Linked DNA regions of Homo sapiens: region 1 is linked to region 2. The links come from fine-mapping of genetic effects on gene expression. A gene starts in region 2. The other region holds a variant in brackets. All regions are shown on one strand. Distances are from middle to middle.

Region 1 (14,887 bases), 40 kb before region 2:
AAAGTGGCTGGTGAAGCCTCTCTTCTCCTCGATGTCAGCAATGTTGGCCGAGATGGCAACATCATCCGGAAGCTGTTCAAAGTCACTGTGCGAAGGAGGGGAAAAGAGATCCTGCTTATCACCCTGATGTGTTTTGTGGGCCCACCGGGTATGAGGTAGAGTGCAAAGCAAACTAATGTTGTGAAGCCAACATTCGTCTCTCAGCACCCCTTCCCAGGCCAGGTCCAGCCACTGACCCTGGGAATACGGAGATAACAAGACACAGCCCAGGCCTTGAGTGCAGGAATGGGAAGCTGGCGGCCATACTGAGTGCAGGAATGGGAAGCTGGTGGCCATATTGAGTGTAGGAATGGGAAGCTGGTGACCATATAGCAATAGCCAAATTATAGTCTAACACATTGCTGTCAATTGCACAGATTCACCTGGGAATAAGGCATCAAACATCTCCATACCAGGCCCTGTCCTAGGCCCTGGGTCACAGATGTAAACAAAGTCAACATGTGCCCTGGATGGAGCTGCTCAGTTCAGGGAACCGCAGGTTGCTGAGCATGGCTGGAGCACAGAGCAGGAGGTGGAACGTGATGAGAGACCAGTCGGAGAGACAGGCAGGGCCCGCTCACGAGGTGCCTTGATGCCTCGCAGAGGGACCTCGAGTTTTCCCTGGGGTGGTGGGGGCTGAGGAAGGAGTCAAGCAGGACAGACATTGGCAGATGCTCGAGGCATAGGCGCAGCACTGGGGACAAGAAGATCAAGCTCCCTTGGGAAGATTCCTAGCTGTGCTCCGCTCCTTCCCTCCTCTGTAAAATGGGGACAGGAGAAGTACTTATGTCTCCGGGTGGTCATGCAGTCCCATCTGTAACAAACACAGCCCTAAAATCTCCATGAGGGCAAGGACTCTGCTCACCCTACATCCCAGTGCCCAGAACAGAGCCCGGCATACAGTAGGTGCTCAGTACTGCTCAATACACGGCCACTACCGTCGTCTGCAATTATAGAGTTTTTTGATGGGCAGCATGAGAATGGCCTGGCTGCCTGTGGGGCGGGCAAGAAGAGCAGCAAACCCAACCGGAAGTCCCCTGGAATATCCGCTCCCTTGGGGACCTCACCCAGGCCCTACTGGGCCGGGATGTTCTGGCTCAAGACACACTCGCACAGTTCACAGACTTTGGAGCCTGGCCTGGGGGAGGTTTTGGAGCCTGCCCTGGGGGAGGCCGAGGTTGGAAGAACCCTTGGAGGGCAGCCAGGGCAGGTTTTCTGGCACCTGGCACATAGTAGGTGCTCAAAACATGTCTGTTGGAACCGAACTTGCCACCCCTAAGGCAGCCCTCCCCATCTTTGGATGTCTCACCTTGGGGTTCTAGAAAGTCCCCGCTGCGCGAACCTGCGCCCTCTCCTTGTACTCTCTGCTTTGACCTTAAGCAGAACAATCCAGGCTCGCTTTCAGATAAGACCTTCGAGGTACAGGGAGCCCCCATGCCCCTAGTACCTGGCTCAAGGCCTCATGAAAAGCAGTCCCTCCCCCTCTGAGGGCTAAGGCAGCTGAAAGGGGACAGGGAGTGGGGGAGGGAGTGCACAGTCCTGCTGGTCAGCTCTCCGTGTCATCCCCTGAACCCTGTACCCCAGAAAGCAGGAAGTGCCCAAGCCTCAAACAGCTGCTGCTTCCGGAAGATTCGAGTTTGCGTGCGGCTGGGTCCCCCAGGAGCATGTGAGGGGAGGAAGGAATTCAGGTCGGCCAGCCTTACCCAGCTCCTGCACCCCGCTCTGAGGCTCAGGAAGGCCACGTGGACTCCCCTGTAGGCATTTGCTTCTGCTGCCCTTGCCCCAACCCACGCTTCAGGTTCTACTTCCAGCCCCAGGCCCCAACATGGGCCTTCTGTTCCCCGCGTAGGCACACACCAGCCTGGCCTGTCTCTGGTGACCCCCTGAGTGGCCTCCACGTAGGTAACAGAGGTCACCTGCTGTTCCAATCCAGGGGGTGCAGGGGCCAGGCTTTGCGTCCTCAGGGCCCCCGCAGCTTAGAGCTCAGACCTGGCTACTGAGGAAAAATTCTGAAAATGCTTCCCAAGCGACGAGGCTAGATGCTGGTGAGGCCGTGCTCCAAGCCCCAACCTTGCCAGTCACTCTCTGTGACCCTGAGTAAGTCTCTTATCCTCCCTGGGCCTCAGATTTCCAATCTGTACAATGGCAAGGTTGGACTAGAAGAATCTAAGACCTTTTCCGTCTCAAAGATCCACCCATTCATTCATTCATTTATTCATTCATTCAGCAACATTTATTGAGCCCTTGGTCCTGGTGCTCAATAGGGATGAGCTACCTCCTAGTGATACAGCAGCGATCAAAACGGACACAGCCTCGTGGAGCTTGCTTCTCATGGGGGAGCCAACGTTCAAGAAAAAATAATAAATGAGCATATAATATTATTCCTGTAATATAAGAACCAGGCAGAAAAGGGAAATAGGGCAAAGGGTCAGACAGCAATGAGGTAGGGGCTGTCAGGAAGGCTTCTTGGAGGAGGTGACATTTGAGGCAAGCCCTGATTAGCGGAAGAACAAGCCAGATTCTGTGAATTCTGTTTGCGCAGAAGATGGAAAGTCATTGCTGATCACCATGTGAAGCAAAGGGCCCCAGCCTGGGACCCAGGACACCTGCATTCCTCTCCAGACACTGCCGGTCACTCGTTGTGTGACCGTGGGCAAGTCACTCCCACTCTTGGAGCCTCAGTGTTCTCATTTGTGTCTGAGGGTGGTGAGCCACAGCTCAAAGTTTCGTTAAAGCAGTTCTGAGAGGTTGCATTTCTGAGTATTTGGGTTCTGACTCAACCCCAGCCTCTCATGTTGATCAGGGACTGCAGAAGGACTGGCCTTTGTCCCTAAGGCCTATGAGGAGCAGTGAGAAGGCCCGGGGGCGGCCACACCCCGGCACTCACCTCTCGGCCCGCAGCTGCTGGGCCACAGCCATGGTGGGCGATGGTCCCAGGGAGCAGGTGGAGAGTCTCGCCCAGCCAGTCCCAGGCTGAGTTCACCTCTCACTTCCTCCAGCCACCCTGCGTCTCGTCTCAGCCTGTGGTCCTGGGAGTCCCCAGGAGCTGCCTTTGGGGAGGCTCAGGCCTGCTTCTCTCCAGTCTGGCAGAGGCTCCTCCTCCAGGCTCTCTGGGCCTAGCCTGTGGCCCACACTTCCTCTTACCTCACCTCCCAGCTGCACAGAAATTGAGGAAGTGGACCCTCGGGTGCCAGGTTTGCAGGAATCCACTTCCTTGATGTCAGTCCTTGGCGCCAAGCCTCAGTTGGGTATCAGAAGCCTTGCTCCATCAGAGATGGGGTCCCAGCCATCAGGGTGTCTTGTGACCTTGAGGAGTCACTTATCCTCTGGCCCATCAAGCCCCACCTTTATTCTCTTACTGCCAAGCCTTTGCCCAAACTCTTCCCCAGGCCTAGAATGCTGGCCTCCATTTTCCTGTGATCTCTTAGGCCCAGAGTAAATGCCACCTCCTCCAGGAAGCCCTCCTGGTTCCTCTGGCCTCTGTCTTCCTAGAGTGTGAAGTTTGGTTTGCGCGCCCTGGCACTCTGGGATATCCTTTCCTCATCCTTAGATCTCCATGCCCAGCCAATCCTCTTTCACAGGGCTGCCAATCAGAGTGAGTTTCACCCTCCCTGCTTAAACTCTCCTGCCCCATCACCCTGTGCTCAGGATAAAGTCCAGAGTCCTTGCCCTGCCTGCCTCCAATGCCCCTGAGGCCCTGCAGCCTTCCCCAGCCTCTGCTCCTGAGCTCCCTTTTTCTCACTGGCCTCCTTTCCGTTTCTAGAATGTTCTAAGACGTCCGCCCCAAGGCCTATGCTCATGGTGTTCCCTCTGCTGGAAAAAGCTCTTCACTGCCTCCTTTGCATCTCAGCTTAGAAGCTACATCTTTAGCGAGGCCTTCCCTGACCACACACCCTAAATTAAGGCCCTCCCTACTACATTCTCTCACAGGTCCCTGCACGTCTACTGCAGAGCACTCATAACTATTGTCATCTCACATTTGTTTGTTTATCTGTATGTTTAATGACTGCCTCCTTGGCTAGCAGCGTGCCTGGCACATTGCAAGTGCTCAACCAATATTCAGTGAATGAATGAAACGCTGCCAGTCAGTGACTGCAGCTCCTAACAGGTATGGGTATTTGATTCTGAAGGGACTTCTCTGAGAAGAGGTCCACAGGAGTCATTGGCACAGCCACACCCAGTAACTCCCTGCCAGCTACACACGCTCACACACTCGTATTCATACATGCAGAGCAGAAAGTTGTTTTAAACTACTTTAAACATACAAGTCCCAGCTAAA[A/G]AAAACAAGAAAGCATAATTTTTAGGTAGGATCAAAGAGAGGGGTCAGGAATCTATACCAGGGGGAGAGGAACGTGGCCAACAGCCCATGGGAAAACCAAGATTGGATATGCATTGTTGGGCTGAGATTTTAATGCCAAATCTGGGACTAGGTACAGGCCACAGGTCCTGCTGTTAGCAGAAAGTCAAATCTGAGTTCTCAGTGTAAAGTGGGTGTCAGAACTGATTATGGGAACAGAGTTTCTCAGCCATCAGCCTAGAGTCACGGCAGGAGCTGAGGTCCTCTCACAGTCCATGGGTGGAACAAGGGACGTGTGTACCAGATCAGCCTCAAGCCTGCCCTCTGCACTGGTGTAAGGCCCCGATATAAGCTACCCACGTGGTGCAGAAATCCTAAGCTGAGGCATTATATAAAAACAGCTTGGAGTCAGTGACTCTGCAGGGCCTACTCTGTCAACTCACAGACCAAAACTACAAATCGTGAGCTGTGAAAGACAGCTCAGAGCCTCCACATCATGAAGAATTCACACCCAAAGAACTAGAAATAATACAAACAATAAGTCTGATGAGTTGCTGGTGTCTCGGGGCTCCCAGGCTAGAGGATGAAATGAAACACAGAGCAGGGTTATTAGTGCAGGTGTCTGTAAGTACCAACAGGTGCAAGCACACAGCCATAACTGAGGGAAGAGGAGGACATTGGCCTACAGTTGGTCAGGAAGGACAGGAAGTGGCAAAACAATTTTAGCAAGCAAGCATGATACAGAATTTGTAGGTGATTGTGTAAACTGTGTGTGTAGTATATGCCTATAGTTGGAAACACATATTTGTGTATAAACACATACAGCTCGCATAGGCAAGTGTAAGTGCATTTGTGTTGTGTCTATAAAAGACCATATAATGTGTATAGTGGTGGCATTGTGGCTGTGAGAGAATGTGTTTAGATGTTTAGGTTGCAGTCGGTGACAAATGAGTATAAACACAAGTACATTTATAATAGGTGAACTCAGGCAAGATAACATGTCCTTTTTGAACCTTTCTTCTTCACCAATCTGTGAAACAGTCTTGCCTAATGGAGTTGTAGTAGGAATTAATAGAAAACTGTATAAAAGTGCCTAGACACATGGACATTTCTTATTCCTTTTTTAATCGTTTTCAGTGTGTATATCTGTATGTGTGTGTTTCAGGTGGGTTAAGCCCTCAAGTTTACCTTCCCAGGTATTTTCATGGCTTGCCCTCCAAACCCCGGCCCCCCCAACCCCCCAAGAAACCTCCTGTGGCCCTGACTCAGCCACTGGGAAGCCACCTCTGCACCTGGGGGACAAAGATGTCCAGGGAAGAGCCCGCGACGGGCCAGCTCTTCCCCTCCTCCCCTCTTTCTCTCCTTTTCTTCTGTCCCTGCCCGTGGTTCTGCTGAATACAGGTATTTCTCTGTCTCCTCATACACAGAACGCTGCTGCCAATTTTATGCCCGAGCTCTGATACAGTGTAATTTGAGGCCAGGCACTCTGTCAGCAATGGGCTCCTGTCCTGCCGCTGCAGCAATGCCTGTACCTTCTACTCCCACTCCAGAACCGGGCTCTTGCTGCTCCTGCTGCAGGGGGAGAATGAGGCAGAGGGATGACCTGGAAGAGGAGCCAAGCTCTTCACACGTTCCATTAAACAAGTATGGATGGAATCTTTTTTGGATAAGTGCAAAGAAATGCCTGAAGTGACCTCTCACTTATGGAGACCTGATTTTTGATAACCTCCACATCCCACAGCCTGTGAATAAACCAAAAAAAGAGAAAAGCCATTGAATGGTTAGAATTGATAGCTCAAAGTCTATGCATTGACACTGGCATATTTTATTCACAGAAGAAATATAAAAGGAGCCTGGTCCTCTCTTCCTGCCAACTCAAGAACTTGAAGCAGTGAGTTAGGGGAAGGAAGAAAATTACCAGGGGCAGCCAAATGCAAGCGACAGTTCAGTGACAGCCTGACAATGATAAAGACCATGGAATACCAAAAAATATATATGTTCTCAAGAACTCAAAAAACAAATACCAGAGGCCATTCAGAGAAGGGCATCTCTGCATAACACCACTTACTAATGCCCATTCATAATCACATCTCCAGGAAAAAGTCTAATACACCAAGACCATGCCTGGGGGATCCCCAGAGCCTGAATGGGGACTGGATGTGCGAATCACAAAAGTGCACAGCACTTTTCAGTCCTTCCTCATGCAGGTGCTGGGGTATACAAGATAAACCATAGCCCCCATTTTGGACATGAGGAAACTCTCCTTTGAGCAGCCAGCGGCTGGGGCTGAGAGCTCCAGCCATAGGAACTGGAACTCTGTGATAGGGAGGAGGTGAGCCTCTTCTACAGGACCAGGAGATACCCTTGAGAGCTCATTATAGGTACTCAGCAAATCCCCACTGCCTACATCAGCCACTCTCCAGGGTAAGAGAAGGAAAATCCCTGATTGGACAGTGTAAGATTCCTGGGGATCCCTCACACACTGAATTCCCCAATCTTGACCCACATGTGTCTCCCTTTATAATTTATGAGGGGAACTTCACTGGACCTCCTCCCTGAGCCATAAATAGCCATCCCTGGCATGCCACCCAGGCAGGGAGGGTGTAGACGTGGCCAATTAGACAGCAAACTCCCTGAAGGCAGAGGGTCTTCTCTTCTCTGAGAAGCCCTGGCACACGGCTGAGCTGGGTCTAAACCTCGTGTGCCCTCGCTGTGTCACGCATTAGTTGTGCAAACTCTCCGACCATTGTTCAGTTTTCTAAATGGAGATAATATTTGCCTCTACATTATTAATTGGAGAGAAAAATTGCAGGATTATTGTATTATTCATTTCCAAATGTGTTGAGAACCTACTATGTGCCAGACACCCACTGTGTGCTAGGCCCTAAATGAAACACAGACACTGTTCTTGAGACACGCACTTACTAGAGGTGTGTTAACTAAGGGAATGAATACCAGATGTTTAGGACAGTGGCTCGCGCATAGCAGGTGGTCAATAAATTCTAGACGTTAATGTTATTGACGATCATTCCTTGCTGTGGCTTGGTCCCTCCCTTTTCTGTCTCCCTCTGCTGCACAGCTTGGTCCTCTCTGTCATACAACTAACGTTACATTCTAACTTTTTCCCGCAATCTGTCATCCGCTCTCATCACGCGGGGGCACCGGGACGCGCACTTCCCTGGCGGAACCGGCTCTGCGCTTAATCTAAATGTTGACGGGAACAGACCGCCAGGGGGCGCCGCGATCAGCAGCCGAGTCCCCGCTCCGCAGCGCCACCTAGAGGAGGTTGAATGCTATAAGCCGCACTAGAAGGACCCGGCCAAGTCGAGAGTCAAGTTGCAGCTGGCCAGGCAGAGCGCGCAGCCTGCTGGCTCAGACAACCTCTCCAGACAGCCCTATCAGCCAGAATCTGAGCTGCACTCAGGGGAAGCTTCCCCCAGGGGCTAAGAATCCTGAATCTCCTCTCCACCATCATAAATACGGTAACAGCCAAGTCACTCTGAGAGTTGACTGTGTAACCACCCCTACACCGTGAAATTGCCAGGAGGAGCACGAGAGCTAGCATTTGCAAAGCCCTTAGTACAGTGCCTGGCCCACAGCCTGGCTTGGTCCATGTTGGCTCTGATTGTTGTTACCTAATCCTCACACCAACCCCCATAAAATAGTGGTATTCTTATCCCCACCGGGAGATAAGGAAACCCAGGCTTTACGGGATTAGGAAAATAAACCAAAGCGGCTTGCTTAATGACCGGCAGAGTAAGATTTGGACCTCACATCAGTCTGGCTTCAAGACCCACACTTAATAACTGCTGTACTGGCCCTCATTCATTCATTTATTCACTCCACAAGCATTCATCTAGTATCACTCTGCACCAGGTAGAAAGGATATTGAGATGAATTCAGCACAACTGCTGCCCTCAGGTAGCTCACACTGCTGTTGAGGTACATAAATAAACACACATGCACAACACAGGCACATATACACATGCACACGCAGGCACACATACACATGCACAAACATGTATAAACACATACACATGCATGCACACACAGGCATATATACACATGCACACGCAGGCACATATACACATACACATGTACATATACACATGCACACATAGGCATGTACACAGAGACACATACATATACACATGTACATGTACACCTGCACACACATGCATGTACACACAGGCATATAGAAATGCACATACATGCATGCACACACATGCAAATATACACGTGCATGCATACCCATGCTCAAACATGTACACACATACAGAATCAAGTACAATTTGGGGAAAACCAAGAGATACATGTTTCACATCCAGTTTCTCTGATTCCATCTCCAGTGCTGTCTTTGGTCCCCAGAGGTTATGGACACAAATGTCTACAGCGGCCTGGCAGGTAGCCTGGAGGTTTCAGATGGATCCGGGGGTGGAAAGGCAATGGCAGTAGGCTATAGTCTAGCGTCTGCCTTTCGTTAACCTTACATTCTGGGACAGAACTCCAAACTCTACATTTGAACCTGGCCTTCCAGTTTATCATGAAGGTACATTTATCAAAGAAGGATAGAACTTACTTTTTAGCAGTTGATTGGCTTGATTCCTAACTGTACATATTTAGAATCGTGGTACATGGGCCTCTGTCCCATTGCTCTAGGCCCTCCAAATGTCAGGGTCAGTGAGCAGGACAGATAGGCTTGTAAGTCATGGTGATTCTCAGGATTTCATTCAAAGAGGAAAGAGAAACCATTCAAGTGTTTTAAACAAGGAGTGATATGATTGAATTTATGTTTTTATAAGATGCCTTGGTCCACTACTTGGATATGGGCTTGCAAGAGGGTGGCATTAGAAACAAGGGGAGGAAGCACCACTTCTAACAGCGTTCTACTTCAATTTTTAAAAAATCAGCTTTATCAAGGTGCAATTCACACACAGTAAAACTTACCAACTGAAAGTATACAATTCCATGGGTTTGGACAGTTGTGTAACCAGCACCACAATCATTATATAGGACATTTCCATTATCTCAAAAGATCCCTCAGGACACTTTGCAGCCAATCTCCTTCCCCTACCCCCAGGCCCTGGCAATGACTGATCCACTTTCTATCACAGTATTTTGCCATTTCTGAAATTTCGGACAAAACCACAGAGTATGTGATCTTTTGTGCCTGTTTTTTTTCACATAGTATAACGCTTTTGAAATTCATGAGTGTTGATATGTACATCGGTATTCATTCTTTTTATTGTCAAGTAGTATTTTATTGTATGGATATAACATAAGTTGTTTTCCATGCACAAGTTCATAAACATTAGGGTTTTTTTTTTGTTTTCCAGTTTGGGGCTGTTAAAACAAAGGGGCTACAAACATCAAGCATAAATGTTTGAGTGAGCATGTGCCTTCATTTCTCTTGGGTAAATATCTAAGAGAGAGTTGCTGGGTCATATGGTAGATGCATATTTAACTTTATAGGAAAACTGTTTTCCAGGTCGGGTGTGGTGGCTCACGCCTGTAATCCCAGCACTTTGGGAGGCCGAGGTGGGTGAATCACCTGAGGTCAGGAGTTCGAGACCAGCCTGGCCAACATGGTGAAGCCCCATCTCTATTAAAAATACAAAAATTAGCCACGCATGGTGGTGGGCACCTGTAATCCCAATTACTCGGGAGGCTGAGGCAGGAGAATCCCTTGAACCCAGGAGAGATTTCAGCAAGCTGAGATCGCGTCACTGCACCCCACCCTGGGCGACAGAGCGAGACTCGGTCTAAAAACAAACAAACAAACAAACAAACAAACAAACAAACAAACAAAAAGAAGGAAACTGTTTTCCAAAGTGGTTGAATCATTTTGCATTCCCCCTGACCCATGTATCAGAAGACAGAGGCTCCAGAGTACCCGGTGTGCACTGGCTCAGAGGCAGTGGCCCCAGGTCTGCACAGACTGGGGGTCTAAATGAGTCATAGCCTTGGGGCTGGTTATTAAATGATTTTCTCCCAGCTCCAAACCTTTCTTCTACCCTCTGCTTTGTGGTGCCCGAGCTGGGACTCAAAACCCTGTTTGTTCTGCTTTGCTGGCTGATTTCCGCTGCCCTTGGCCAGGAGGGGGCGCTGGAGGGAGGCCGGAAGGATGGGAGAGGAAGGAGGGGCTTGCTTCTTTCTCTTTGCAGGCGGGACCCAACTGCCCTGCCCTGGAAGCCATGTTGGCCCAGCAGCAGTTGATTCTAGGTTTTAGTTTTTTTCACATTCCCAGAGCCAGTCTCACCCCACCCCCTCCTCAGAGGTCTGCAGTTCTGAGTCCCAGCTCCTCCCCGCAGGTCTAAGTCTCCTCCTCCAAGCTTCCAGGCTAGCGTAACCCCGCTCTCTTCCTTCCGTTCCCACAGCCGCAGGGGTGATGGCTGCTTCCTGAAGTTTCTATCTCTGGTGACCTCGGTGTCTCCTTCTGCCTTTTCAGTCTAACAGAATCTGTTCAAGCAGTCTCCTTTATAGAATTCTCACTTTAAAAATTATTCATTTGCTTTCTGTGTCACCAAACCTAGCCAGCCTAGCAGGCTGCAAGGCCCAGCTCCCAGCCCCAGGGTGTCCCAAGGGAAGCAAGGCAATAAGGCAGAAAGAGCTCTCACTCTTTGGCTATGAACTCTCAGACATCTCCCTCAAGCACTCCGAGCTTCAGGTTATTTATCTGCAAAATGCATCCAAATAGAGCCTAATATAAATGAGGGCTTAATAAATATTTGAGGGAGGAAGTGGAAGAAGGAGGTATTTTATATCCGTTATTGATACCTACTTCATTTGAGCATGTTACAAATTTTTTTCTAATACTCTGCAGGGAATGCCAAATCCTTCCCCTGTGCACTCTGTCTTTATTCTTCTTGATAAGGTGTAGCAGAGACTGCTAATATCCCCTACGATCCACTCTGTCCTTTCTCCTTTAGTGATAAAGTCCCTGAGTTGTGGCTGGACTCATGGCCACCCAGCTAAAGAGAACATTTCCCAGCCTACCTTGCAGCTCCCTGTGGCCATGTGACCAGTTGCTGGCCAATAGAATGGGAGGGGAGGCCATGGACATGCTATCAGGCTGTGTCGTGAAAGACAGAAGGTGTATCTTCCATTTCCCATCTCCCCTTCCAGCTGGCTGGAGAGGCCAGCTATGGAGAACAGTTAAGCAACAAAACAGCTTGGATCTCTGACCCTGCTTCTGTTCAGATTTTTCAGGGAGAAAGAAATTTCTATTGTGTTTTAGCAGCTGATTCTTTGATGCTTGTTACAGCAGCTGAACCTGTACCCTACCCAGTACACTGGAGCAGGGATTGGCAAATGCTTTCTTTTCATTTTCTTTCTTTCATTTTTTTTTTTTAAGTTGGAGTCTCGCTCTGTCACCTAGGCTGGAGTGCAGTGGTGCAATCTCAGCTCACTGCAACCTCTGCCTCCCGGATTCAAGCCATTCTCATACCTCAGCCTCCTGAGTAGCTAGGATTACAGACATCTGCCACCACGCCCCGCTAATTTTTGTATTTTTAGTGGAGATGAGGTTTCAACATGTTGGCAGGCTGGTCTCAAACTTCTGGCCTCAAGTGATCCACCTGCTTCAGCCTCCTAAAGTGCTGGGATTGCAGGTGTGAGCTACTGCACCCAGCTGAAAAATAATTTCTAAAAAACGCCAGATAGTAAATAGTTTAGGCTTTGCAGGGAGTTGGTCTCTGTCACAACTGCTGAATTCTGCTGTCACAGCACAAAAGCAGCCATAAACAATAAATAGTTGAATGTGCATGACTATCTTCCAATAAAACTTTATTTATAAAAGCAAGCAGGTCTGTGTGGACGCTGCACCAGAGTTAACAGCAAAGAGACTACCTTGCGACAGTTAAAAAGAGCTCAGGAAGGTGAATCCTGGGTGAGGGGTGAGGCAGAGCAGCTGCCTGAGGGCTGCCTCCTCCCTGAGGGTCTACCTCTGGTTCCTGATGCTGCTAAGATGCCACTGCCTTTGAAAGTGCCCCAGGAAAGGAGGGCTCCTCTAGCTGCAGTTTATCCAGCACAGACATGTTGGAATTTGATTTTCCTAAAGGCATCAAAAGGGGAAAAATCTACAGCCAGCAGAAAAGTGTGGCTCCAGGCTGACCAGCATCTGCATGAAACTATATTCAAAAATCAGTCGTGCCTCCAAATATTAACTACAAAGGAATGGCAACCTCCCCTTTCCACAGCCCTCTCCTCCCTCCTCTGCGCTGCAGCACTCTGAAGCCCCTCACCCACCCGCACCCTCCCTCCAGCCCGGGCCCCAGGACATGCCTTCCTCCCTTCCTCTGCCTGCTCATTGTCCTGTACATCAACTTGACCTCTCCTGATGCATTCTCCCCGTCTTCCTCCCATCTCTATGATTTTATGGCTTTTCTTCATCCATTTGATTCTTTGCATCACCTAAGATTCAAAACTGGTCAAAGACTTCCCTGGAAGGCTGGGGCAGCACCCTCCCCAGCTAGAGCTGTCACTTTAATTCCAGCCTCTGTCAGCGTCTTCACTTCTCACCTCTTCCTGCTGAAGATTCCATAGCATGGGCACATTTGGGGGCAAGAACCATGTCCCATTCATCTATGAATCACCAGTGTCCAAAACAGGACCAATAAGGGTTTGTGGGAGGAAGGGAGGGAGAAAAAGAGGGGAGGATGGAGGCCGAGAGTGAAGAAGGAGACAAAGCAAGTGGGTAGACTTGCAGTAGGACTGGGCTTTTGATCTCGGACATTGCCCTCTTGCCGGATGAGGCCAGGACCCAGGTGATTGAAATAAAAGCATCTCTCGCTCCTCATGAGCTCTGCCCTCTACGTTAAGGGGAGAGCTTTCCCTCTTACATGCCCACAGTGTGGCGACGACTGCCCAGGGTGCCCCACTCTCTCGGAGCTGCACAGCCAGGAACCAGAGAGCTTTGTAACACGCAGTCCTGGGAGTTCTGTAACTGGCCTTTCAGCTCCTGGCCCTTCGGCCACCTGCTCCCAGCTGTGACCTCCTAGCCACAGCCCTCAGTGTACTCCTGTCCCCAGCCCTCACCTGGGGTCCTTCTGCAGCTGTGGCCTCTGCTATTTGTTTTTTGTTTTTGTTTTTTCTGAGACGGAGTCTCACTCTGTCTCCCAGGCTGGAATGCAGTAGCGCAGTCTTGGCTCACTGCAATCTGCCTCCCGGATTCAAGTGATTCTCCTGCCTCAGCCTCCTGAGTCACTGGGATTACAGGCGTGGACCACCACGCCCGGCTAATTTTTGTATTTTTAGTAGAGACGGGGTTTCACCATGTTGGCCAGGCTAGTCTTGAACCCCTGACCTCAGGTGATCCACCCGCCTTGGCCTCCCAAAGTGCTGGGATTACAGGCGTGGGCCACTGCGCCTGGCCTGGCCTCTGCTATTACCTACCACCCACAATGCTGCCTCGGCTCCCCCAACCCCTGTGCCACTTGCTCCCACCGCTTCTCCTCTGTGACTGGGGCTCCTCCCAGATGCCTCTCCAACCTCAGCCACCTTCCCCAGCATGCACTCTGAGTGGGGGTTTCCTTACTCCCGAGCGCTCTGTTACCATCTGCACACCGAGGACTCTGCGGTCGCTCGCTGGGCACCAGGCCGTGTGTCCCAGCTGCCTCCTGGACCCCCTACCTCTCCCTAGCTGTTCCCCGAGCCCCTCCAAGCCAGTGGTTCCTTTCCCTCCACAGCGGCCCCTCCTCCTGAGCTCTGTCTCCACCATTTACGGAAGACAGAAACCTGGAGTCACCTTGGCCTTCCTGTCTCCTTGGCCTGCCACAGCCGATCTGTCAGGAATGTATTTCACCTCCTTAAGTTCCCTCTAACTGCCTCTCCTCCTCCATCCCTACAGCCTGGGCTTAAATTCAGATTTTCCTCCTCTCCTGCCTGAATAATTTCAACAGTGGCCCACCTGGTCTTGTCCTCCATCCGTCCTGCGGGTTGTCATCCACACCAGCTCCTGGGAGGCCTTTCCTGAATATGACTAACCCCACACATCCCATCCCTCCAGGCCTCACGGTGGCTAAGAAAACGAGTCCATATCGCTCTCATTCAGCCAGGCTCCAGCCTAACTCCAGACTCATTCCTCTCCTCTCCCAGCTAAAACTACTGGGGCAGGTGGTCCCTCAAGCCCCAATGTGCCCAGGCCTTTGCATATTCCAGTGCCTCCACCCCCCACCCCCAATATCTCTGCTTAACCAATTCCTAGTTCTCCTTAAAGACTCCACACGCCATCCACTAGAAAGGTATCACAAGGGTTCGAAATGGAACATCTGCCTGGCACACAGTAAGTGCTTAAGATGATGGAATTAGGAGTGTTATGGTGGGTGCCCTGGAGCCCTGGGGACGATAAGAAAGATCACGAGGTGATCTTTAGAATCTTAGAATGGGCTTCACAACGATCTTAGAAGGGGCTTCAGCCTCAGGGTAAAGTTTGATGCTCAGACCACTTCCCCTTCCACTTAATAGCAGGATCTAGACTTTCTCCAGCACCCCTCCCAGGTCTTTCCAAAAGTCTTCTTCTTCTCTGATGAGGGAGGGAAAGGGTCTTTTCTC
Region 2 (15,925 bases):
TTTAATCTAGGACCCCCTTTACGTTTGGAGCTGGGGTGAAGATGCCTTGGGGCCGAGCGTTCTCAAGCCCTGTGGACCAGCCTCCTCCCTCGGCTCCTCCAGGCCCACCCTCCAGTACCACCCAAGAAGGGAGAACCTAGAGACCTCCTCTTTCCAATCCTCTCCGGCCTTCTGAGTACATGCCTCCTTCTTGCGCCCTCAGCCCATGACCTCAGCCATGATCTAGGGGTGCCCTGCTCCCCTTTCACACTCCAGTCCACGTGGGGCCGTAACCCCTTCCCAGGGTTCCTCTGGGCAGCACTGGGATGGGGTGGAGTCTTCCAGGGCAGAACATAAACCCAGGTGGCCAAGAGCTCTGTTCACCCCGGCCCCTTGAGCCCTAACCCACCCTCTTTCCAGAGCCCCAGGCCCTTCCAGACCACAGTGCGTCTGAGCCCCCAGCCCCAGCCCCTTCCAGCATTCACATTCTCTGATTCTCCCCTTCTTCCTCTCCGTGTGGCTCCTCATTTCCCCAGCAAGGACACTGGGTCCTGGCCTTGGAGACCTTCCTGGAGAGTCAGCGGTTTTCAGAGGCCGGCACCCCTGGCTCTCCATGTTTCTATCCATAAAGCTATTCCAGGTCTTCTCATTCAGGGGCAGGCCAGGATCAAGTTCTGCTCCTCACAATGGCAACCCTATTATCATTTGTGTCGGATTTTATAGCCTTTCTCAGACACGATCTCATTTAGTATTCACCACGGCTTCCTCTTTAGCTCCATTTTACAGGTGGAAAAACTGAGGCCCAGAGAGGTGAACCAACTGGCTCAGGATCACACAGTGGGCAAGTGGGTGGAGCCGGGGCAGGGACCCAGGGCCGTCTGTCTGCCTGCCCTTGCCATCCTCACGACTGTGTTCCCTGTGGCCGCTCTCTCCGGAGGAAATCGTGCTTAAGCATGGGTAAGGGGAGGAAAGGGAAACAAGGCCACAGGCTTCCTGAGATCCGGCTCTCAGGAATGCAGCCGAGATTCCTTTGAGTTAATACACATCATCCCACAGGGCTGATCTCATCGATATCATTAGATCCTGCGATGTCCACCCAGCCTGCCGGGGCCCTGGATGTGGGGAACTCTGTATCCTGTTCCCAGCCACAGCAGGTGGAAATAGTGTGAACTCATGAAATAGCAGCAGCGAAGCTAACAGCTGAATACTTATCTCCTGGCAGGCGGCAGCTGAGAGACTGCTGGCCCGCACACACTGGCCTCCTCCCCTCCACCAGCTGGGAGGCCAGAGAGGGCATCAGGGAGAGCACTGGATGTGAGAAGAGGCAGACAGACCAGGCTCTGGTCCTGGCGAACTGCGTGACCTTGGGCAAGTGACTTGACTTCTCTGAACCTCAGTTTGGTTCATCTGTAAAAACTTTTCATCTGTATAAAAGAAAAAGATAGTGGGATCCACTCTGGTAACATATATGTTACTGGAACTATGTGAACGTGATCAGCTAAAGACCACGCCTCATTTTAGGGGATAGAAGGGGGCGTCAGTGTGAGATTGCGGCATCTGCTAGCTACTCAGGGTCCTCCTCCCTGCTCACAGTAAGAAACCCTGAAGCTAGAGGAAAATTCCACTGGGCACTGCTGCTGCCTTTAAGCAGAGGTCCTAGGCGGGTGGAGTCTGTAAGGTCTCACGCAGAGCAGGATGGGCCTGGGTCGGTGGGAGGGGACTTAAGTCCAGGAAAGCAACTTTGGGCCTCAGAGTGAATCATGCTCTAGAAGTTTGATGCAGGCAAACTGTCATTACACTCACCAAGGACTTAGGGCATGAACCTCCCATGTGCCTGGCACACTTGGGCAGCCCCCAGGGACTTACCTCAACAATGACTTCGTGGGCTTTGACTGCTCAAAGCCCCTCACCTCTCTGTCCAGGGACAGTCTCCCTCTCCAGGCCATTCCAATGATGTTGACATTCTGCCTCCTCCAAGCCTGAAGGGTATCCTGTGCCACAGGCCTGTGCTCCCTTTGTAATCAATAGTGACAGGTTCAGGGATGACATGGGCCAAACTGAGCTCATCACAACCAGTGAATGCAGCTCTGGGACTTTTTTTTTTTTTTTTTTTTGAGCGGAGTCTCACTCTGTCACCAGACTGGAGTGCAGTGGCGTGATCTCGGCCCACTGCAATCTCCACCTCCCGGGTTCAAGAGATTCTCCGGCCTCAGCCTCCTGAGTAGCTGGGACTGCAGGCACACACCACCACGCCCAGCTAATTTTTGTATAGCTCTGGGACTTTTGAGCAAACTCTCGGGCTGTAGACTCCCTTTCCCCCAAAGGACTTGGACCTGAAAGTTTGTAGCATTGCAGGGACAGCCATCTTGCCACCCTCAGGGGTCAACCAGTTTGAGAGAGTGGCACAAGGTATTGCTGAGAAGTAAGAGAAACAGCATCTTCCTGACAGCATTTGAGTTCTGGATCAAACCATGCTTGAACCTTCGTGGACTTTTCAGTTGCACGAGTTAGCAAATCCCCCACTGTCTTAAGCCAGCCCAAGTCAGACTTTCTCATCACTTACAGGCAAAAACAGACCTGACTGATAAACCCATTTTCTGGCATCAAGGCCCTTGTATAATTAACCAAATTAATAAAATGAAGCCTGCTTCAATCAGCACAGATTCAGAGCAAAAAAACAAACAAACAAAAAAAAAAAAAACTAGATCATGTTTCCAGATATATGACTCGGGTTTTAGGACATCTCTACCCTACTTTAAGTATTGTAGGGGGAAAGATCCTCCAGAATCAGAAGTGCTCAGTTTAAATCCTAGCTCTCCCACCTACTTCCTACCTGTGTGACCTTAGGTAAGTCACTAAACCTCTCTGAGATTCTATTTCTTCGAACGTCTGAGATAAAGCACATAAAGCACTAGGTACGCAGTAGGTGCTCAATAAATGCACCCCCCCCCCAACACACACACACACACACGATATGGTTCAGCCCATTCAGATTTGCTTAATTAGAGGTACATGAAGAAGACCTATGGGGACAAAGAGGAAGGCCATCTGGGCTCCTGAGAATTCACCCACAGTAGGTGCTGCTCCCGTCTTCCGGTCTTATTCTGGAAGCAGGATAGTGTGGTAGAAAGGAGCAAGTGCTTTGGAGTCAGAGAACCGGGGCTGAAATCCTACCTCCATTCTGTGATCTTAGGCAAGTTGCCCAATCTCTCTGAGCCTTGTTCTTCCATCATTAGTAAAAAAGAGAGGGTTTTGCCTACCTCTTAAGGGGATACAAGAATCAAAGTGCGATGCTGTGCACACAGAACCCAGCACACTGTTCAACAAACAAGTGTAATTATTTTCCCAGGCCCCAGCCAGCGATCTTCCTCAAGGGTTCATCCTCAAGGTTCTCCTGCATCCCGGCTCCCTGAGCTCAGCCATGCCCACGACTTGACGAGATCAACTCCTTGACTTCTCTGATGACAAAGCCCCCAGGGTCCAGCCCTGACCTCACTCCAGAGTTCAGACACATCTCCGCCAGGGTGTCCTTCAGGTCCCCTAAACCCAGCATCAGCTCTTGGCTCTTCCACTACTCTCTGGGGGATTTGGGTAAGTCACCCTGGCCTTGGTTTCTTCATCTATAACATGATGTCATTTGTAGAAGTTTGTAGCCGATCACCACGGAGGCTGTCCCAGCCCTAACATCCTAGGATTCAACACCACTTACTCTATCATCCCTTCGACTGAGCACTACCTCCTCCCTACACTCCCTGCCTTCAAAGTCAACACCTTCCTTCTTCAGCAAACCCCACCTTGAATATTTAGGGTCAGCTTGGATTTGTCCCTCTTGTTCATGCCACAGCCCCAATTCTGGAAGCTTCTCTCCAAGAGGTGCTCCCCTATCTGCACACTCCTTCCTGTTGCCACCACCAGCAACCTAGCTCAGGCCCCAGCACCACACCTCAAGGAGGCCCCAGTCCCAGCTTCCCCCATGCAGCCTGCCCTCGGCCCTTTCTATCCATGGAGCTTCCAAACAGCCTTTGCATGGAGCCTGGGATTCCTCGTGTCACTGTGAAGAACTAGACCCCACCATTGACAATCTTCGTGCCCTGGAGATTCTTTTCAGGTTAGGGATGAGGAGAGGAACATTTCATGGTGGTCAGATTAGATATTCACTACGTATTTATTGAATTCATTTGGTCATTCATGCTTCTCAAAACACATCCCTCAGCTGGTCCTCTCCAATCCAAAACAGACAATGTCAGAGATCTCTTTGCAAATCATGAAGGGCTTGGGCCTTTGTGCCTCAATGTCACACGCATACAATTTCAGGGGGTCCATCTTCCCCTCGCCCTAGACCATCTATAGGGCACAGTTTACCTCTGATTGAGCTCATGTTACAGGTGGAAAGACTGAGAAAGAGAGAGGAAGGGACTTGTCTGAGAATATGCGGAACATTTCCTTCTACCAGGCACTAGATCCTCGCACAAAAGTGCTGAGTCCGCTCCCAACCCCAGGCCCGTGGCTTTGAGCAGCAGGTCACTTAACATCTAACGTCTTTATGCTGTTTCCTCATCTGTGCGAGAGCAGCTATGTCTACCTGGCAAGGCTGTAGTGAGAGATCATATCAGCATAGGAATGGGGCTCAGCCCCATGCACAGAGGACAGTTCTTGTTTCATTCTTTTCCTTGCTGTTTCTCTTCCTTTCCTGGCAGAATATGGAGGAAGGAAGCATCGCTGCCATCTACAGTGGTCACGGAAGGCTTCATGGAAGAGGCGAGCCCTGCCTGGGCCTCAATTTTGGGTGCTGGAGGGAAGCAGGGGCCAAGAGTTATTAATAGTCTTGGCCTGATGGGCCCAGGGAGGCTGAATGTGATACAGACACCCAGCACCACGGTTGGGGAGTACCTGACACCGGAAGGGGAGGGGGCCGGGGCTACGGGGAGTGCCACCTCCCAAAATAGCCAGAGCAGAAGCCTATATAGGTGGCCATCCCACCTCCAGGCTCACTTCCCGACAGGACTTCCCACCAGCCCAGCCTTTCAGTGCAGGCTCCAGCCCTCCACCCCCACCCGAGGTGAGTGGCAGCTACCGAGGTTGGAGGATAGAGGGATGCAGCAGGATGAGCCAGCTGGAAGGGAGAGCTACATCTCCCCTGTCCGTAGTGACCCGGGGAGGGGGGTGCGGTGGGGGTGCTGGAGGCAGGGCAGCTGTGGAATGTAGGGCTGAGAGCATGCATTCCTGCTTCTCCACCCAGACTCCTGGTGTGGCCTGGGGCAAACTCCCCCCACCCACCGCCCCCCGTGGCTGGGCCTCAGATTCCCCAGCCTTAGAACGAGAGGGCTGGAGTCAGACATCTGTGGACTCTGGTGATGCCATCAGAGAGGACCCAGAGGGCAGAGGAGGACTACCCAGGGCTGATGGGCTGACCTAATGACATTGATGCTCTGGCTGGGAGGGCTCAGTCCCGGAGGGGGTGTCAAGTTGATAGGAGAACTCAGCAGCAGGGAGAGATGGAGGAAGGAGATGGAAGAAGAGTGGGCCCCTGTTGAGGCTGCAGCCTTTGCCACAGGGTAGCTGCTTAGGGGCTCACCAGGAGCCAGTGTGTGGCTGAGATGTATGGGACCTGATAGAGCTGGGTCCCAGGCACCAGGGAGGATCACCCAGAGAGTCACTGAACTCCACACGAGTGAGTCCAGGGGTGTACCCTGCTCTGCTATTGCTTTACCATGTGTCCTTAGACCATTCACGGACTCTGTGCCTCCGTTTCTCCACTGGTATAGCTGAAGCGTCCTTCAGCTGGGGAAATCCATTCTCCAACTAGGCTCCTGGAGTGAGCTGAGCCTGGGAGTTGAAATGATAGCATAGGAGCCTGGCATATCTGAGTCAGCAGCCCAGCTGGGGACAAGGTGCAGAGGTGACGGCAGTAGCAGCAGGGTCCAGGGCAGCTGAGGGGTCCTGGGAAGTCCTGGAGCTGAGAGGCATCAGGTCAGGAGCTGCATCCTTGGTGCCTTGGAAGCCATCTGGCGGGCTGTGGCTTGAAGGAGCTGACTCACAGGGAGGGGGCAGCTGGAGCCAGCAGAGGTATCCTAAGGTTTCCAGGAAGGGCAGCCATCCAGGGCTGAGCTGCAGGAGACAATGTTGACAGCGATGTCAGGGAACTTGAGTTACTGGGCAGCTGGACAGCTGCTCTCCCTGGTCCCCACCACCCAGGGCCACCACAGCCCAAGGCCCTGCCTACCTGCCAATACCTTAAGTTGCAGTCCCCAGGTCCCACTACATGGGACCACTGACGTCATCAACACATCAGAAGGAGACAGAAGCCCAGAGAAGGTCACAACCCAAGGTCACACTGGGACTTAGTGCAGCCCAGGATCTAGAACCCAGGCCTCCTGACTCCCTGTCCAGCGCTCACACACTCTAGAAGCAGCTGGTTGCAGCTTGAAACCTTGGGAACCATGGGGAAGAACACAACGGGTCTCTGGCTGCATACAGATAGGCACCGTGACATTTTTCCAGAGGTGAAGTTCAGACCCCTACACCTGCTTAGGTTGTCTAGAAAGTGTGGTCTGAAGGTGCTACCCTTCTTCCAAACACATATGGGGCTTTCTGGGAGGGAGCATAGCAATTCCAAGCGGACTCTCCCACCCTACTCTGCCCAAAAAAGGTTTATAGGAGTAGGGGGAGTCTGGACCCATGATGCCAGGACCCAGGAGACCAGGAAAGCAAGTAGTTAGTAGAGATCTGAGAAGTGTTCTTCGAAAAATCAAGCCAGCAAAAAAATAAAAAATAAAAGTAAAACATCAAATCAGGTTTTAGAATATGCATCCCTGGCCAGATGTGGGATGGGGCACCCGAAGTGGGCCCCAGCAGCTCCTGCCTGTCCCTGTCCCTGTCCCTGCCACCTCCTCCCTGCGTCGGGTGGGTCAGGTTTCAGGACCTCAGCGCTCAGATTTTGCAGCATAAATTTGCATCCAGGACAGACCAGAGCAGAGGCTGAGGTAGGAGTGGAGAGAGAAAGGGAGCAGGGCCTAGGAGGTCCTGAGGTGCAGGCTGGCCGCTGAAGGTTCAGGATCTTCCCCCACGCGGCAGGACATCCGCCAAGGTTCCCAGATCTGAGACGGCGCACCTCCTGCGTGTCCTTGACGGCAGGTGGACTTTCCAGACCCAGCTGGTGACGCCAGTGCCCCCTAAATCCCAGAGGTGGCCCCTTCCCTCGTGCCCTGGCCGCAGCCCCTGGGATCCCGCGGACCCCTGGCCTGGCGGTGCAGGAGTGGTAGCAGGTCCGCGCGCCTTCTTGCCGGCGGCCGGCGCTGCTCAGCGGCGCGGCTGGACTGAGCCGCTCCCGCTGCGCTCAGAGTCCGGGCCCCTGGCGCCATGCCAGGCCCGGCGGGCGTGCGCCCGGCGCGCAGCACTGCAGCGCTGGTCATATGAGCAGAAATGATGAGAAAAGCACTTTTTAATCTTTTCGCACTTGCTCTGCCCGCTCAAACAGTTGCAGGATGTCGATGACAGACTTGCTGAACGCTGAGGACATCAAGAAGGCGGTGGGAGCCTTTAGCGGTGAGCAAGCGCGCTCCCCTCCCCATCCCTCTCCCCTCGTCCACCGCCCGCGCCCCTGCACTCCGCCGGCCCCGCAGCCGGCGGATCCTCCCCAGCGCGCTTCTGCCCACACTTCCCGCTGGGCGCCGGCGAGGTCGGGGCGGGGGCGTCCTTGGCAGTTCCCAAACTCTGTCCGGGCGAGGCTTGGCGCGGGGAGCGGGCGGGGAAGAGGGCGCCCCGCCTAAGTTACAGAAACTTGAGGGTGCTGAAGGCCCGGTGGCTGGGAGGACTCAGGGTCCGGGACCAAGGGCGAAGACCAGGGTCGGAGGAGAGACCTCCAGGGTCCTTGTACGAGCTCTCTGGACGTCCTCTTTAAGGCACTTAGAGGGGACTGCAGGGGGCATCCTCCTCTCCAAGAGACCCCTTTCCTGGACCCTCATTCTGGACAGGACTTTTCCCGCCAGGCGGTAGCCTTTGTTGGCCCCCTGACTGTCCTAGTTCCTTTACTGAGATTCAGCAACGGACCTGCGGGCGAGGTGACCTTCTGGAGCCGGCGCACAGCTCTGCCTAAGCCCGCACGGGGCATCCTCAGTGCCTCAAACCTCCAGCCTCCTTAGGCGGGCAGGGGAGGGGAACTGGCAGTCTCACCTCTCCCAGCTGCCCGGGACTTCAGCGCTAAGCTGCCCGCCTTCCTCCTCCCCTGTCCTCCAGATGGGGAAATCAGGGAACTGTCTTGGAGAGGACAAGACATTTGCCCAAGGTCACCTAGCTGGGCAGAAGGGGTATTAGAACTGGGTTGCCCAGCCTAGTGTCGGAGGTGGACAGGGCAACTTTCCTTGTCTCTAGCCCTGTGCTGAGGGGAAGAGAACATGACTTCAACAGCCATTCCCTACACACACACACACACACACACACACACAAAATACATGATCTAACATTGTACCCTTCCCCAGGTGTTCTAAAACAGGACCCCAAGATACAGAAAATTGCAGGTAGAAAAGGACCCCCATTTCCTTTCTGCTTTGCACCCCCTCCCCTGGGCACAAGAACCTCTCTGGGAAGCCACCCTCCCAGGGTCCTGGGATAACCCTCTCCCTTCACCTCAAGCCCATGTGGGAAGAAACTTAACTGGGTGTTTCTCGGGAGCCTCCTAACACCCCCTTCCCACTGCCTCCGAAGTGGATTTCTGCGCAGAGCCAGGACTTCCGGGTTTGCCCCTCCTCCTCCCACTGTATGACCTTGAGGGAAACCTGTCCTTTCTATGTCAATTTTCTGGCAACAAAGTCTGTGGCCAAGAAAGAAGGTCAACCCTCCTCCCCCTAACCCCAGGACCATGTTCATGCCCCCTTCAATTCCCCAGCCCACTCCCAACCAGCTGGCACTCAAAAGTCTTCCTGGGCACAAGGTTCTCAGAAGAACAAAAGCCTTTGGTTCTTAGGTGCTGCTCCCATCATCAGCAATGGGTGCAGTGGAGGTGGGGCGTGGGGGCGGGCTTGAGAGCCAGGGAGGTCTGGGTTTGAGCACACCTCTTCCACTCCCAGCCTTGTGACCTTGGACAGGTTATCCTCCCTTGCCCGGGCTCCCTCAGCCCTCCAATGGAGGTGGGTACCTCTCATTCCCCATGACTGGCATGTGGGAATCCATCAACAAATGCCTTGATGCCCCCCATTCTCCCAGGCTTCCCTACCAGCCTTTCTGGTCCTTGTTTGACCCTGCTCTTCCCCCCACAGCTACCGACTCCTTCGACCACAAAAAGTTCTTCCAAATGGTCGGCCTGAAGAAAAAGAGTGCGGATGATGTGAAGAAGGTGTTTCACATGCTGGACAAGGACAAAAGTGGCTTCATCGAGGAGGATGAGCTGGGGTAAGCGGAGGCCTGCAGGGGCTGCCCAGCCCACGGCTGCACGAGAGGGAGTGGGGGCTGGGACTCTAGCTTCCAAGTGTCCATCAGACCTGCCTTTCACTCTGCCTGCTTCACAGAAAGTAACCGTGCGTGAAGGCAGGGCTCCGACCCAGGGCACCAGGGGAGAAGGCTTCCTGGTGCTATTGCTTCGGAAGAGTAAAACCCTCAGCTGAAAGTGCAACTAACTAGGTTAAATGATAGCCACTTAATATTGCTAATGGAATGTTGCTACTTAATAATTTAATGCAAATGAAGAGGCAGTTTTCTTGCTGCCTAACACCATAGGCAGGGCAGAAAGCATTCACTTGAGTATTTCATTGATTTTCATTTGTCTAAAAGACACTTTCCACCTTCCTGCAGCCCCCAGCCCTCTGGTACTAGTGTGGCTGGTGCAATTTCTAGGCAAGCCAGGGATGCAGAACCACCTCTGAGAGTCCAGGGGTCCTTGGAGAAAAGCAGAGAAGGAGAAGGCTGTGGCTAGGAAAATGCATGCCTCCATCTGCAAAAGCATCTCCCACCATAATTCCCTCAGCCACCCGGCCATGTCTACTGACTCAGGTTGCCTTATGTCACTTTCTGGCCAAGAAAGCCTTGAGTTTTGTCAAAAAGAGAAGCGGGGGGTGGGTGTAGGGAGAGGCCTTTCAAGTAGGGACTTCCCCACCCATCCTGTCTCTCCCCTAAACCATCTCACAAGGGTACCTTCTGTCTAGAATCTTCACGTTCTACCCACTTACATCCAACATGCATGCACACTTATGCACACACACACACACACACACACACACACACACACACTCACAGAGGCTGACTTCCCCCTGTCCTCCAGGTATCACCTTCACCAGGAAGCCTCCCCTCTCCTCCCCTCACCGCAGGTGGGCAGATACAGCTTCTGAGTGCCCTCCTCCACGGCCCATCACACTGTGTGGTCTCTCTCGGAGCCCGTGACCTCCTTATTTTTTCCAGTGCCTTCCGAAGATCACCACTGTGACCCCACTTTCCAGCATACGCCAGACACAGAAATGACACTTAGTGAATACTTGTTGGATAAATTAACGAATGTAGGTGCCCTCCCTGAAGTGAGGACAACCCTTCACTGAGGACAGCCTGTCCTTTCCTAAATACTCACCCACGAAAGCACAGCCACCGAGCAGGCTACCTGGCCCAGAGCATCCGTGTGCGTGACTGCTGCTCGCTGCCTGTCCCAGCCATCCCTTTCCCCATACAGAAACCAGACCACCCTCCATCCAGCGTCCTGCAAGGCGACCTCGGCCTGACTCCCTCACCGGCTTTCTCCCTTTTCTCCTCCAGATTCATCCTAAAAGGCTTCTCCCCAGATGCCAGAGACCTGTCTGCTAAAGAAACCAAGATGCTGATGGCTGCTGGAGACAAAGATGGGGACGGCAAAATTGGGGTTGACGGTGGGTAGCCGTGACCTGGGGTCTGGGCATATTGTGGATCTTGGGGTGTTGGATGCGAAAAGTTTGAAGCTATGTCTGTCACAAGGAAGGGATGATATGGGGGTCCCTCACTCCCCCAGATTAGAAGACAAAAAGCAGTCCATTAGGTCTGAGAGCTCTGCCACATACTCCAGACAAAGGAAAACTGGTGTATTTTCCTAATTTGAAAACCTAAAAGGAATAGATTCTGTTTTTCCTGCTGGGTAGGGGATCCAGGAGGATTTGGGATTTTTTTTTCCTGAACTCTGCCTGCATTTTTGCATGGATACTGGCCCAACCTCTGCCCAAACTGGCTGTGTGACCTTGGGCAGTGTCTCTCGATCGCTGGGCCTCTGTCTCCCATCTCTAATCCAACGAAATGAGGCCGACTAATCCCCAAGGATCCTCTGCCTCTCACATCCTCAGATTCCAGGGATGGAAATTCCTATCTCCTGTCCTCCTCAGCATCTTGTCCTGGTGTCCTGTAACCCCAAGTCTCAAAACCTGTTTGGGTTTTACTCAAATATACTATTCTAGCCTTGCAGCAGAGCCAGGAAAAACAGTAAACCAGAAATCAGTGGGGAATTCAGACAGGGAATACCTGGCCCTGCCTTGCTTTGCAGGCTTCAATGTCAGCACAGGTGAGAGACCAGTGGCCCACCGTCCACTCCTTTCTCCATTTGGCTCTGTGTGGCATTCATGGAGCACACCCACATTGCTATCTCTCTTAGCTTATGATTTTCTCCGGAATTATCTCCATTTTGCAGGTGGGCAAATGGACTTTGAAGGTGCTTAGCCTAGTTGAAAGAGCTAGGACATAGCGGTGGAGTGGGGATTTAGAACCAGGCCTGAATGAGTGTTTGCAACATACTAAGCTGCCATTTGTTCCCATAATAGGCTTTTCTGCTGGTCTCAGAGAAAACTGTGTGTAGGTGTTTGGCCTCTGGGCCCCAGGCTATCTGGGTTCAAATCCCAGCCCTACCACTTTCGAGCTGTGTGACCTTGCGTAATTTGATAACTACTCTGAGCCTCTGTTTTCTCATCTCTGAACTGAATAGAATGATAATTCTTACAGGGTGATTACAAGGGTTAGATGTGTTAATATGTAAAGTGCCTAGAACAGTGTCTGGCACAGAGTAAATGTTATATATGTATTTGTTAGCTAATTTTTTTAAAACTAGGTCCCTTCGCAAGGGTACCTTCTGTCTAGAATCTTCACGTTCTACCCACTTACATCCAACATATAAGTGGATGTAAAACTTAAAACTAGGGATTGGGTTGCATTCATCCTTCTAGCCCCAGTATCTAGCCAATACCCCACACAGAGCAGGTGCTTCATAAACATCCGCTGCCTGAGTGTAAAGCCCAGACCCCCATGCTCTGCTCCTTCTCTGCCCCTTGCCAGCTGTGACCTTGAACACGTCACCTCTGCACACCTACGTTCCCTTGCCCGGCAAATGGGGTGCATCAGCTTCTCCTAAGACCTATTTGGGCTTGTTGTGAAAATTAAGATTCTGTGAACCCAAAATTGCTTTGGGAAAGGTACAAGGATTATGAAAGTAGGTGTATGCCTATGAGTTAGAGGGTTTTTTTTGTTGTTGTTGTTGTTGATTTCTTTTCTGTTTGTTTGTTTCCTGCCAGTAACGAGAATGGAGAATCCCTATCCAGGTCAAATGCAGGGGGTCCCCTGGCCATCTGATGCCAGCTGCCCTTCTTGTGGCTGGGAAGGAGGGAGGTGGTTTTAAAGGAGTGGAGCAGAGGGTATTGGAAAGGCATCATTGGCTTGGCCGCTCCTGGGGCTTCTGGTGCTTGGCAGATCCTCCCTCACACCCCCATCCCCACCAATCTGCTTATCAGACAGCTCCACCCCAAGGCCTGGCTCCCATCTGAACCCTGACCCTGGCCTCCAGACCTGCCTTCCATTTTTATTTGCAGCCAATATGCCATACCTCAGAAGCCCTGGGCTGGGTCTTCATGGCTGACTGCTCACAGAAAACCTACCTGATGAAGAGAAACCAGCCAAACCTGGCCCAGTTCCCTGCCTCCCTCCCTCCCTCCCTGCCACACTCAGATCTTAAGGCATCAACTAAACTCTTCTAACAGATCCAGCAGATGTTGACTGAGTAGCAACTCTGTGCCCGGCAATGGAAGAGGTAAAAATAATTCAGGCCCATTTCCTGACTGGGTGCCCCTGAGCAGCTACTCCTTAGCCCTGAGCCCCAGCTTCCTCATCTGTAAACTAGGCATTATAACATGGAAATGTGGCCTGTAGTGCCCAGCACATAACAAATGCTCAATAAATGGCCACTGCAATGCCTTATTTATTTATTTATTTATTTATTTATTTATTTAGAGACAGTCTCTCTCTGTCACCCAGGCTGGAGTGCAGTGGTGTAATCTCAGCTCTCTGCAACCTCTGCCTCCTGGGTTTAAGCAATTCCCCCCTCCCCCAGCCTCCTGAGTAGCTGGGATTACAGGCACGCACCACCATCCCCAGCTAATTTTTGTATTTTTAGTAGAGACGAGGTTTCACCATGTTGGCCAGGCTGGTCTCGAACTCCTGACCTCAAGTCATCCGCCCACCTCAGCCTCCCAAAGTGCTGGGGTTACAGGCATGAGCCACTGCACCCGGCCATGCAATGTCATTTTTATTGTCTGCAAATTGCTTGCAGCTCTACACATATACACAAACAAGCGATAGTGCCAGCCAGAGGCAGAGGCGCAGGCATCAGGCATTTTGTACGGACTTGGAGGCTAAGCCACAGGCTGTAGGGGACAGAGGGAGTGGGGTCCAGGCAAGGTATTGGCATCAGCCAAGGCTGGAAACTTTTGGGTATGTTCAGAAAGGGGCAAGAAGATTGTTTTGCCAAGAATGGGAGGAAAGAATTATTAGCTGGGCATGTCATGTGTGTCCAGCCTAGTGCTGGGTTTGGTTACCTCATTTGACCTTGGGACAACAGAGGACATAAGTGCAGATGTAGAAAGGGCAGCCCAGGGAGTGAGTGCAAGGTCACAATGCCAGCAAGTGTCAGGGCCAGGATTCAAACCCAACAGCATGGTCCAGGCCCACCTGTGCAGCCTCCATTGAGCTCATAGGCAAGACATAAAATAGACAATGAGCACAGACCACCCTGAGGCACTGGGGCCCCACACTTCATGCTTTTGAGGTGGGAAGATGCAGATGCCCCCTTCCTCACTCCCAACCCCCTAACGCAGGAAGGGTGGGTGCAATGATGCCCAATAGGCAGCGAGATGGGAAGCAGAGCCTTTTTGGGGCCCAGGACGTTCTGTTTCAGATACTCTGCTTTGCTGTCACTCTCTCTAAAGGCCAGAAGGCCCGAGCCCCACCTATAGCTGGAAGATGCCTTCAACTCCTGGCGGGATCTGGGGCATGTCCCAGAGCCCCTCTGACCATAAAGTGCCTTGTCTTTAAAACCATGGGGCATGCCGGGCGCAGTGGCTCATGCCTGTAATCCCAGCACTTTGGGAGTCCAAGGCGGGCAGATCACAAGGTCAGGAGTTCGAGACCAGCCTGGCCAACATGGTGAAACCCCACCTCTACTAAAAATACAAAAATTAGCCAGGCGTGGTGGCACACACCTGTAATCCCAGCTACTCAAGAGGCTGAGGCAGGAGAATCACTTGAACCCAGGAGGCGGAGGTTGCAGTGAGCCAAGATCACACCACTGCACTCCAGCCTGGACAGCAGAGCTAGACTCCATCTCAAAAACAAAACAAAACAAAACGAAAAACCAAAAAAAAAAAAAAAAAACATGGGACATGGGGCAGATCACTAGCCAATTACTGGGGTGCGTTCCAGCCCCGGGATTTCACAGATGTCTCAGTGGATAAACCTCTACACAGAAGACCACTTCACTATTTTGGCTCAGCTGCGTGACCTTGAGTGATGATGGCAATAGCATCTAAGTTCATAGAGCGCTCAATATGTGCCAGGCACCGTGCTTAGCATTTCACTCATTTAATCTTCCTAGCTATCTCTGAAGTGTATACTATTATGATTCCCATTTTATAGATGAGCACACTGAGGCTCAGAGAGGCTAAGGGCTTGCATAAACCCTTTAGGCTAGGAAGAGAAAAGATCAAAGTCTGAAAGTCGGGTCTTTTGAGCTCCGAAGCACGTGACCTGTGCTGCCTGCTTCATTCATTCATTCATTCATTCATAGTTTAATTTACTATAAGATGATTATATTTATTGACTTATTGCCTATTTCTTTCTCCTCCACTAAGATGTCAGGTCCACTGAGCAGGAACTTTGTTTTTTTCAGTTCTAATCCCAGCACCTAGAATAGGGCCTGGCCCATAGTGGGAGAAAAAGAAAAGTGTATTTGGTTGAATGAATGAATGAATGAATGAACAAGTACCCAGCTCTGGGCAGCACTGTGCAGTGATGAGGATCATAACTGCTGTATGTAGTGGGAGATGATCTGCAAGCCAAGGTTGGGGATCTGTGGAGACTTGTCTGTAGCAGGTGCCAGGGAGCCCAAACCAGGGACTGCCTCTCTTCCCTGCTCTGTTTGTCCTTCTGAAGGTGAGTGATACTTATCAGTTTCTTGAAGATCCTGTATTGAAGGGAGGGGGTAGGAAGACAAAGTTCTAATAATAACCCTTTGCATTCCCGTCTCTGGGGCAACTACTTCCAGGAAGCTCAAAGGCTTTTATAGATGTGGTTGATTCATTCTCAAAGGCCACCCTAAAAGGCTGGTGCAGAGCTGACATGGGGAGGGCTTAAGGCTGAAAAGGAAAGAGAAGCTAGAAAAAGAGGTGAAGGGTGCCAAAAAAAAATCTTTGTTAAAGCACCTGCAGTTGCAAAGCCCAGGCATAAAAAGCAGACAAAGCAGACTATGTGGCAGGTGGCTTTTCAAACACTTCACCTTCACAACAGGTCTCCAGCTGGGAGCGGGTGTCAGCATCACCTGGAGGGCCTATGGCAACACAGATGGCTGTGCCAGACCCCAGGAGTTTCTGATTCCTTAGGTGGAGCCCACACTTTTGCATTTCTTACAAGTTAGCAGATGGTGCTAATGATCTGGCGAACCACACTTAGAAGACCACTGCCTTACAAT

Evidence for each region.
Region 1: its variant is fine-mapped to the expression of PVALB in whole blood (INTERVAL, PIP above 0.99).

What each region holds. Positions count from the first base shown.
Region 1 is chr22:36,849,243-36,864,129 of GRCh38, reverse strand. NCF4 (neutrophil cytosolic factor 4) reads right to left here and starts at 3,124. Exons shown (of 10, transcript NM_000631.5): 1 at 2,927-3,124; 2 at 1-85. The coding sequence starts at 2,958. The region is part of intron 1 of NCF4-AS1 (NCF4 antisense RNA 1); the gene reads left to right. The variant A/G (reference allele first, on the strand shown) is at 4,319.
Region 2 is chr22:36,808,544-36,824,468 of GRCh38, reverse strand. PVALB (parvalbumin) reads left to right here and starts at 7,434. Exons shown (of 4, transcript NM_001315532.2): 1 at 7,434-7,524; 2 at 9,234-9,366; 3 at 10,714-10,823. The coding sequence starts at 7,464.